Linked DNA regions of Homo sapiens: regions 1 and 3 are each linked to region 2. Evidence: fine-mapped expression QTL. A gene starts in region 2. Each other region holds a variant in brackets. All regions are shown on one strand. Distances are from middle to middle.

Region 1 (2,764 bases), 22 kb before region 2:
TACTAAACTTACAAGGATCAAAAAAAGGAATGAAGGGTAAATACAAAATAATCTTTTTGTAAACAATTCTTAGATTATACCCAATGCAGAATGTTTAATGAAGCAGTTGAGTCACAGCTCATAAGTCACAAAACCATATTATAACTCAAAGTCAAATATGTATTCGTTTGCCAGATATATTCGTCGGAATATAAGAGCTGCCAATGCCAAAGTCAGGATGACAATCAGTACAGCTGACCCACCATGATCAGTGTGGTTGTCTCTTGGCTGGTGGCCCTGGATTACATCTGGTGAAGTAGACAACCTTCTCTGACTCTGCTGCTGGGCCCGGCGCTGTCGAGGGCTCATGGAGGTATTCTTAGCTACAGGTTGGGTAGGTTGATGAAAGGATGCTGCTGAGGAATTCTGGAGTCCGTACTAGGAAATTTTAAGAAACTTTGTTTGAAACTGGCAAAGAAGATTTGTAAATACACTTGTTATCTATTCAAGAATACACAATCTCAGAGGACAACATATGACTAAGGGCAACACTACCAAGAATGATTGTTACTAATAATACATCCCTTGAGGGGCATCTAAATTTAGGTTCAAAAAAAAGTCATAAGTTAGGACAGCTTTTTGGCCTTTTAATAGTTTTATTAATATATTTAGAAAAACAATCCCTTAAAACATTGGTCTAGATGATATTTTAACACATACGCTTAATGAAAATATGTATATACATATAATGTTTTAATTAGGTTCCTATGTTTCAGATGCCTTTTGTCTCTATTTTTTTAATCATTATTTTTTTAGAGATGGGATCTTGTTACATTGCCCAGGCTGGTCTTGAACTCCTGGGATCAAGCGATCCTCCTGCCTTGGCCTCCCAAAGTGCTGGGATTATAGGCATGAACCAACGTGCCCAGCCTCAGATGCCTTTTGGATGGTATATCACTAACTAAAAATTAAGTGCCTTGATATTATAAAATTCTAAATTTTTTCCTATTTAAAACAATCATACAGCACTTTGGGAGGTTGAGGCAGGAGGACTGCTTGAGCCCAGGCATCTGAGACCAGTCTGGCCAACATAGTGAGACACTATCTCTACAGAAAAATTTTAAAACTTAGCCAGGTGTGGTCATGCCCACCTGTGGTCCTAGCTACTTGGGAGGTTAAGGCAAGAGGATCACTTGAGCTCAGGAGGTTGAGGCTTCGGTGAGCTATGATCACATGCCTGCACTCCAACCTGAGCAACAGAGTGAGACTCTCCCTTAAAAAGATAAAAAATCACATTCTTAGTTAAGT[C/A]CCTAGTGATATATATATAAATTTTTCTAGAATAACCAGCATGTGTGAGGGAGTTTTGCTTTTTATTATAAAATGAAATGGCTTATTCAGAACCTCGATCCCTACCCTGGGAAAAGGAGAAAATCTGACAGACTGCAAGAACAAAACTGCCTTCAGTGTTTTTCCCATTTCTACATTTCCCATTGCTTTTTGATGCTAAAATATCTGCATTAAAAAGCAACAGATGGCCTGATGTTATCTGAGGTATTTAGAGTTGTGGCAATCTCTTGCCTCTCCTTCAGGCTAACAACAACAAAAAAATCATAGCTTATCTGGGATTTGATGTATAACATCTCAATTAATTTATATTATACTTAATGTAAAATAACCACCCTTAGCCAAACCAGGTTTCAGTTACTTTCATAGTGGTCAAATTATATAATCATACTCTGAGATAGTTTATATGTAAATATAATTAAAAACTTAACTTGCAATTTTAGACAATTTATTGCTTGTTGGTATTTTCACTAAAAATAGTCTCAATTAATGACCTGTATCTATGAATAAGAATTCTAAGTTTTATGTACTAAATCAAAACAAGAAATACTACTATAATAACATCATTATTTGTACACTCTAATTTACTTAAACTTCTTGATTTATTTAATTGTATTCTTAGCATTTTTTAAAGTACCAATCCTAAGATTCATTCATTCAATCAACAAACAAACATTGGCAATCTACTATATAGAAGGCACTAAGCCAGGCACTGGGGATACAGTGGAGAAGCGGAAAGAGACCCCTGACCCTCACAGAACTTACATTCTGGGAAGAGAGATAGACAATAAATAATTACAAAGTAAATTACAACTGGAATAAGTATAACTGGAATATGTAACAAGGGGACTTAACATAGATTGAAAATACACAAAAGATTTAAATACATCACAAACATTAGGAGGCTGTCCTAAAAGGTGAAAAAAGATTACCACCTTCCTTTTTGTAATAGAATGCTTCTATTAGAAAAAAAACTATGAAATAAAAAGTAATTAGAAAGCTTTTTCAATATCTTGAACTAAAACATATTGACCTTAAAATTAATTCATTGTTTTCCCCTGCAATTCATAAAATTACATTGGGATCACACAAAAATGATTTAAACTCATCGCTACACACTTTTTTCTTGGACCTCCATCTTCAGTCCCCCTAGACTACCACCCTGTTCTTCTTCAACCAACTTTTCTCTGCCCAGCTCACTCTCTGAATAGGAGAGACTCACTCAAGACTATTCACTCCCACTTTACGTACGTTATTGCTGGGTAAAGGGCAAATCTATATTTGCCCAACTTCTATTTCAATTTTCCCTCACCCTTTAAAGTCTTCAATAAACTGGAGAAACAACAACAAAAAAAATGTGACTACTTAACCAAACAATCTGTTACCAAAAAGACTTCCAAAGACAGTTAATCTTTTATATATAGGAAGGAAAATCATTTTT
Region 2 (2,764 bases):
TAGAGACGGGGTTTCACCATGTTGGCCAGGCTGCTCTCCACCTCCTGGGCTCAAGCCTCCCAAAGTGCTGGGATTACAAGCGTGTGCCACCGTGCCAGGTCTTCATCAGATTTTTTTAAGGAGTCAGTGGCTCCTAAAATATTATGACCAGTTCTACACACTTGGTCACCTAAGGACATTTCTTAGCCTGACAGCACTCAGGCTAACAAAGCTCCCTCCAATCAATATCCTCAGGCTTTTCTGGGGTTTTTGCATATTCTGAAACCTTACAAAAAACCCAAAGATTCACAGTGTCAACTCTTTCCACAAGGATGCTAGTCTTGCTAATTCCTACTGAGAAACAGCTTTTTTTGGAAGGAAATTTTAAGCAACAGCAAAAGTTGGTGAAATCATCACTAATATCCTAGAGTTTATCATGCAGAGTTAACTGTGGAGTTTCTTCCCCCTGACAAAATGTATCAAGGTACAGATAGAAAAAATACCATTTAGAGGATCCAATGATTCATTTCAAGCCTGTTTTATTAAGCTGAGAAAGCTAGTTGCTTATCTTTATAATGCACCAGAAAGTAATTAGAGGCTAGGATTGCTGGGACTGCTTGTGTAAATATAAAGCAGGATCATTAAATGCAGGAAAGGAATCGCTACGACTGAATACAGATACATTTCATATTAGCCAGTCTGGCAAAAATCAAGGTTAGCTCTCAAGAACAGGGCTCAACGAGGTGTTTTTTTGTTGTTGTTTTGTTTTGCTTTAGCTCTATAGTTAACTGGTTTAGTTACAGAACATTTCCTTTATGTCTGTAATTGTATTCGCCCAAGTGCTGCAAATAGGATATTTAAACGACCAACTCCTCAAATGTGAGTAAATCAGCCGGCAGTAAATAGAAGTAAATAGAAGTCCGGTGGCAGCGACAGGGAGGGAATAGCGACCAGGTACAGCGAGGGGGTTGATGACTATCGCCCACCGACATCACCTTTACACCTGTTCTCAGGGATGAGTTTCTGACCCAGCTCTACGGGACCAGGCGAAGATGAGAAAAGGGAGAGGCTGGGTGCTGCGGGGCGCGCTGGCCGGCCGGGGGATTGGCAGCGGACGTCCACCCGGCCACCTCGCCCTGCGGCCTGTACTTCCCGGGCAGGCGGCGGTCTCGCGTAGAGCGCGAAACCAGGAGCTGAGCCGCGAGTGGCGCCAGACGCGAGGGGACCGAGGCGGCGACCACCCCGGGGTCCAGGGTCACTCCGCCCTCCTCGCCCAGGGGCCCCAGCCCTGCTCACCCGGACTCTTCAGGTTGTAGCGGGTCTCCATGGTGGGTCGCTGGCTTGGCTCCGGCCTCCCGGGCCGCTGCCACCTCCTCTCCACGCGGCCGCTGCCCGGGTCTCAGCGCGGCTCGGGCGGACGGGGCCTGGCCGAGGAGCCTCGGCAAATGCCGCCCAGTCCAGCCTGGACTGCGGGCGGGGTGGCAAGGCTGAGTGCGGGCGAGGCGCTCGCTTCGCGATGGCGCCGCCTCCTCCACTGCGCCCCCGCCTCCCTGAGTGCCTGGCAGGCACCGGCGCCGGCCGGGGCGGCGCTGAACCGGGCGCCCGGGCTGGAGGTCAGCCTCCTCGGGTAGTCGCAGGCCCAGCCCTGCCGCGGCCGCCCGGCTTGCGTCACCCGCCCTCGTCCGGGATTTGTGAAGTTGCCCTGACGTGGCAGTAGCTTCGTGGCGGTCGGTCACTACCCAGCCGCCGCCCGCCCGGCGAAGCCGGCTTGGGGAGGTGCAGGAGCGAGCGGCGTCCTCGTCCTCTCGTCCCGGCCCTGCCCGCTGTAGGCGAGGTCCGGGACCCCCGGGCCCTCGAGAGCTCGGAGGGGGCGCCGGGCTCCGGCTGCAAAGCTGTCCGCAGCCGGCTGCCCGCGCGCGGTCCCGCAGGGTCTGGGAAAGGCTTTGTTTTTAGATTCAGTTGCTGTTGCGAGGGGCGGGGGTTAAGTGAGGAGGGGGAAAGCCAGTGACAAGGAAATGGAATAGGATTTTTTTTATTTTTTATTTTGTGTGTGTGTGTGACGGTGTCACCGCTCTGTCGCCCAGGCTGGGATGCAGTGGCGCGATCTTGGCTCACTGCAGCCTCTACCTCCCGGGCCCAAGCGATCCTCCCACCTCAGCCTCCAGCGTGGCTGGGACCACAGGTGTGTGCCACCATGCCCGGTTAATTTTTTGTATTTTTGTTAGAGACACGGTTTCACCGTGTTGGCCAGGCTCGTCTCGAACTCCTGGACTCAAGCGATCCGCCCGCCTCGGCCTTCCAAAGTGCTGGGGTTACAGGCGTGAGCCACGGCTCTGGCCAGAGTTGGATATTCATAACAATTTTTTTCTCGGGTAGTGTGTTAGGTGCACGACATGTTTTAGGCATTGCAGGAGTTTTGTTTTTTTTGGTTTGTTTAGATGTAAAAGCTGTCAAAAAAAGGAATTACATTTAATGTGAGGGAAAGCATACAAATATGAAAGGTTAAACTTCAAAGGACACACTTACTGCTTCATTGTCCAATGTGTGGGATCGAGAGAGGACTGAGTTCAAAAGACTTAAGGAGTAGGGACCTTACTAAAGGAAAGGAGGGAGGGATTGGGAAGGTGGGGAGGATAGAAAGGGTTAATCAGGTTGGGCAAGTTTTATTCTGTTATATAAAGACATAAACTCTTAAATTTGATTTGTTTTCTATTGTTAAAGTTAATCTAAATCTGTGAGTTTCTTGATGAAATTGGGAGTAAAAAAGTGAAGGATATCTAAAATT
Region 3 (2,764 bases), 570 kb after region 2:
ATAGGTTTCAGAGGCCTCTATGGCAACTTTTTTTGTAATTTCAATTTCTTTCACTCTGAAAAGTCTTTACAGGGTTGTCAAAAACACAGCACAAATGGAGGTTTTAAAAAACAAGTTTGAGGCTGGGTGTGGTGGCTCACGCCTGTAATCCCAGAACTTTGGGAGGCCGAGGTGTGGGGATCATGAGGCCAAGAGAGCGAGACCATCCTGGCCAACATGGCGAAACCACGTCTCTACTAAAAATACAAAAATTAGCTGGGTGTGGTGGTGTGCGCCTGTAGTCCCAGCTACTTGGGAGGCTGAGGCAGGACAATCGCATGAACTTGGGAGACGGAAGTTGCAGTGAGCCAAGATTGGACCACTGCACTCCAGCCTGGCAACAGAGCACGTCTCAAAACAACACAACAACAAAAACAAGTTTGAGCTGGGCCTGGTGGCCCACCTGTAGTCCCAGCTACTTGGGAGGCCGAGGTGAGAGGATTCTTGCGGCCAGGAGTTCACAGCTGCGGCGCACTATGATGATGCCTGTGAATAGCCATTGCACTCCAGCCTGGGCAACATAGCAAGGCCTTGTCTCTACAAAGAAGAAAAAACAAAGTCTGAAGGGCCCAGTGTAAAATGTAATGTTTCCAGTGACTGCTAGCATGTCTCTGAAGGTTTCCATTCACTGCTTCGGGATGAAGGGCACTGTCTCAGGGATGCACTTATCTTCAAGAAGAAAGAGTAAGAACTAGCCATGGAGAATCAGCAATGCCTCTTTGTGGCTAAGCAGGCCAGTGGCAGATGTGTGTCAGGATCTGCAGGAACCAGGGACGGGTGTGGAGACAGAAGGCGTCATGCTCTTGAGTGAAATGAAAGACACTTGCGTAATGGGATGTGTGGCTTTCTCCATCTCTTTGGGCCTTGATTTTTTGACACCAGGAAGTATTGTGTTCACTTGTACCACGAAGGCATAGGTGCTCAGTGAGGAGAATTGGAAACCCATTTCTGCTCACGGCACCTTCACCAGCTGCTGTTAAACATTAAGTACAATCTTGCTAATGCATCCCAAGTGGTGGGGCAGAGTTGGGTGAGGTGGTGGGTTGGAGAAGAGTGAAAGACTCTAAAATGATTTCAAAGAACAGCTCAGTTATTTCCAAATACATACAACAAAACTGCTGGCAGGGCCTGGTGTAGAAGGAACCTGTCCTCACTGCCCCAGAGGCAGATACAAATTTCCCATAAGAAGCACATGTAAAGTAGGAAAGAAAATGGCTGCTGTCCACCTGGGGCTGGACAGTGCTTAAAAGCTCTTTTGTAGCCGCGATTCCCAACCTTTTTGGCACCAGGGACTGGTATCGTGGAAGACAAATTTTCCACGGACCAGAGGCAGCGGGGGTGGGGGGATGTTTTCGGGATGACACCGTTCCACCTCAGATCATCAGGCATTAGAGTCTCATAAGGAGCTGCAACCCAGATCCCGCACATGCACCGTTCACAGTAGGGTTCGCGCTCCTATGGGAATCCAGTGCCACCGCTGATGGGGCAGGAGGTGGAGCTCAGGCAGTAA[T/C]GTTCACTCCCCAGCTGCTCACCTCTTGCTGTGCGGCCTGTTCCTAACAGGTCATGGACCGGAACCAGTCTGCGGCCCAGGGGTCGGGGACGCCTGTTTTGCAGGACGCAACAGCTGGTGAGGTTTATTTTCCTTCAATGCATGACCATTATTTGTATCACAAGAGCAGATGTCAGGGTTGAAGGTGCACATGACCATCAGTTCTAAATTACCAGGTTTTCCCACAGAAAATTTTGGGACTCTGACCCACCTGTTTTTCTCAGAGTGGATTAACTTCACATCTTCAGGCGTAGGTAATCCGCCTCTTGTACCGAAAATGTTATGACTGCGACGTTGTCACAGCAGCACACATTTGCAAAACCCATGACCTGCTCTCAGGAAGCCTTCCTTGACTCCATAGGTGCCCATGGAGACTCGCCCGAGGGAGCAGAACTTGGCAGTTTTTAATTTCCGTTTTCCCATCTGGCGGTCGCATGCACTCCTTGAAGCGTGAATCTCGGCAGCACAGCCCTGCCCTGCCCGGATACCATGCGCATGCACTGGTTACAGCCTCGCTGACAGCTCAGACCCCCCTGCTCTGCTCTAGTGGCTTTCTCTCACCTCCGAGCTCCAGTCCAGTGTTCGCTCATGGTCACTCGACCTGCCCACCATTTGATATCTTGTTTTCTCTTTACATCAAAATCGAAGACATAACTATCAAATACACTTTTAGAATACAACTTTTAAACTGTACAGTCATGCATGGCATAACCATGTTTTGGTCAATGATGGGACGAATATATGACAGCGGTTCCATAAGATTGTAAACCCTATTTTTACTGCAACTTTTCTATGTTAAGATACACAACTACTTACCCTGGTGTTACAATTGCCTACCATATCCAGTACAGTTACATGCTGCACAAGTTTGCAATCTAGGAACATCTAGTCTAGGTGTGTCATAGGCTTTCTCATCTAGGTTGGTGTGGCACACCCTGATGTTCTCACAATAGGAAATTGCGTAAGGATGCATTTCTCACAACGTACCCCCTTCACTAACCAATGCATGACTGTATGGATTCCTCAACCACAATTCTAAACATCTTTCCTTGCAACTCACTGCATCTTGGTGTTGGCTTAATGTTCTTTCTCATTTACTTTCATTTAGTTTTTAAAAAATTCAGCCTATTTTGGATATAATTGCAGATTCACATGCAGTTGCAAGAAATGATACCC

What was found.
Region 1: its variant is fine-mapped to the expression of UBE2J1 in whole blood (TOPMed, PIP above 0.99).
Region 3: its variant is fine-mapped to the expression of UBE2J1 in esophagus muscle (GTEx, PIP 0.99).

The regions. Positions count from the first base shown.
Region 1 is chr6:89,329,541-89,332,304 of GRCh38, forward strand. It overlaps UBE2J1 (ubiquitin conjugating enzyme E2 J1), which reads right to left. Exons shown (of 8, transcript NM_016021.3): 8 at 1-417. The coding sequence ends at 139. Among named protein-coding and RNA genes, the nearest start is that of GABRR2, 16 kb to the left of the region's middle. The variant C/A (reference allele first, on the strand shown) is at 1,288.
Region 2 is chr6:89,351,264-89,354,027 of GRCh38, forward strand. UBE2J1 (ubiquitin conjugating enzyme E2 J1) reads right to left here and starts at 1,459. Exons shown (of 8, transcript NM_016021.3): 1 at 1,276-1,459. The coding sequence starts at 1,306. RefSeq lists an enhancer at 765-1,714 and silencers at 1,011-1,070, 1,101-1,810, 1,821-1,920.
Region 3 is chr6:89,923,476-89,926,239 of GRCh38, forward strand. No RefSeq gene overlaps it. Among named protein-coding and RNA genes, the nearest start is that of GJA10, 30 kb to the left of the region's middle. The variant T/C (reference allele first, on the strand shown) is at 1,550.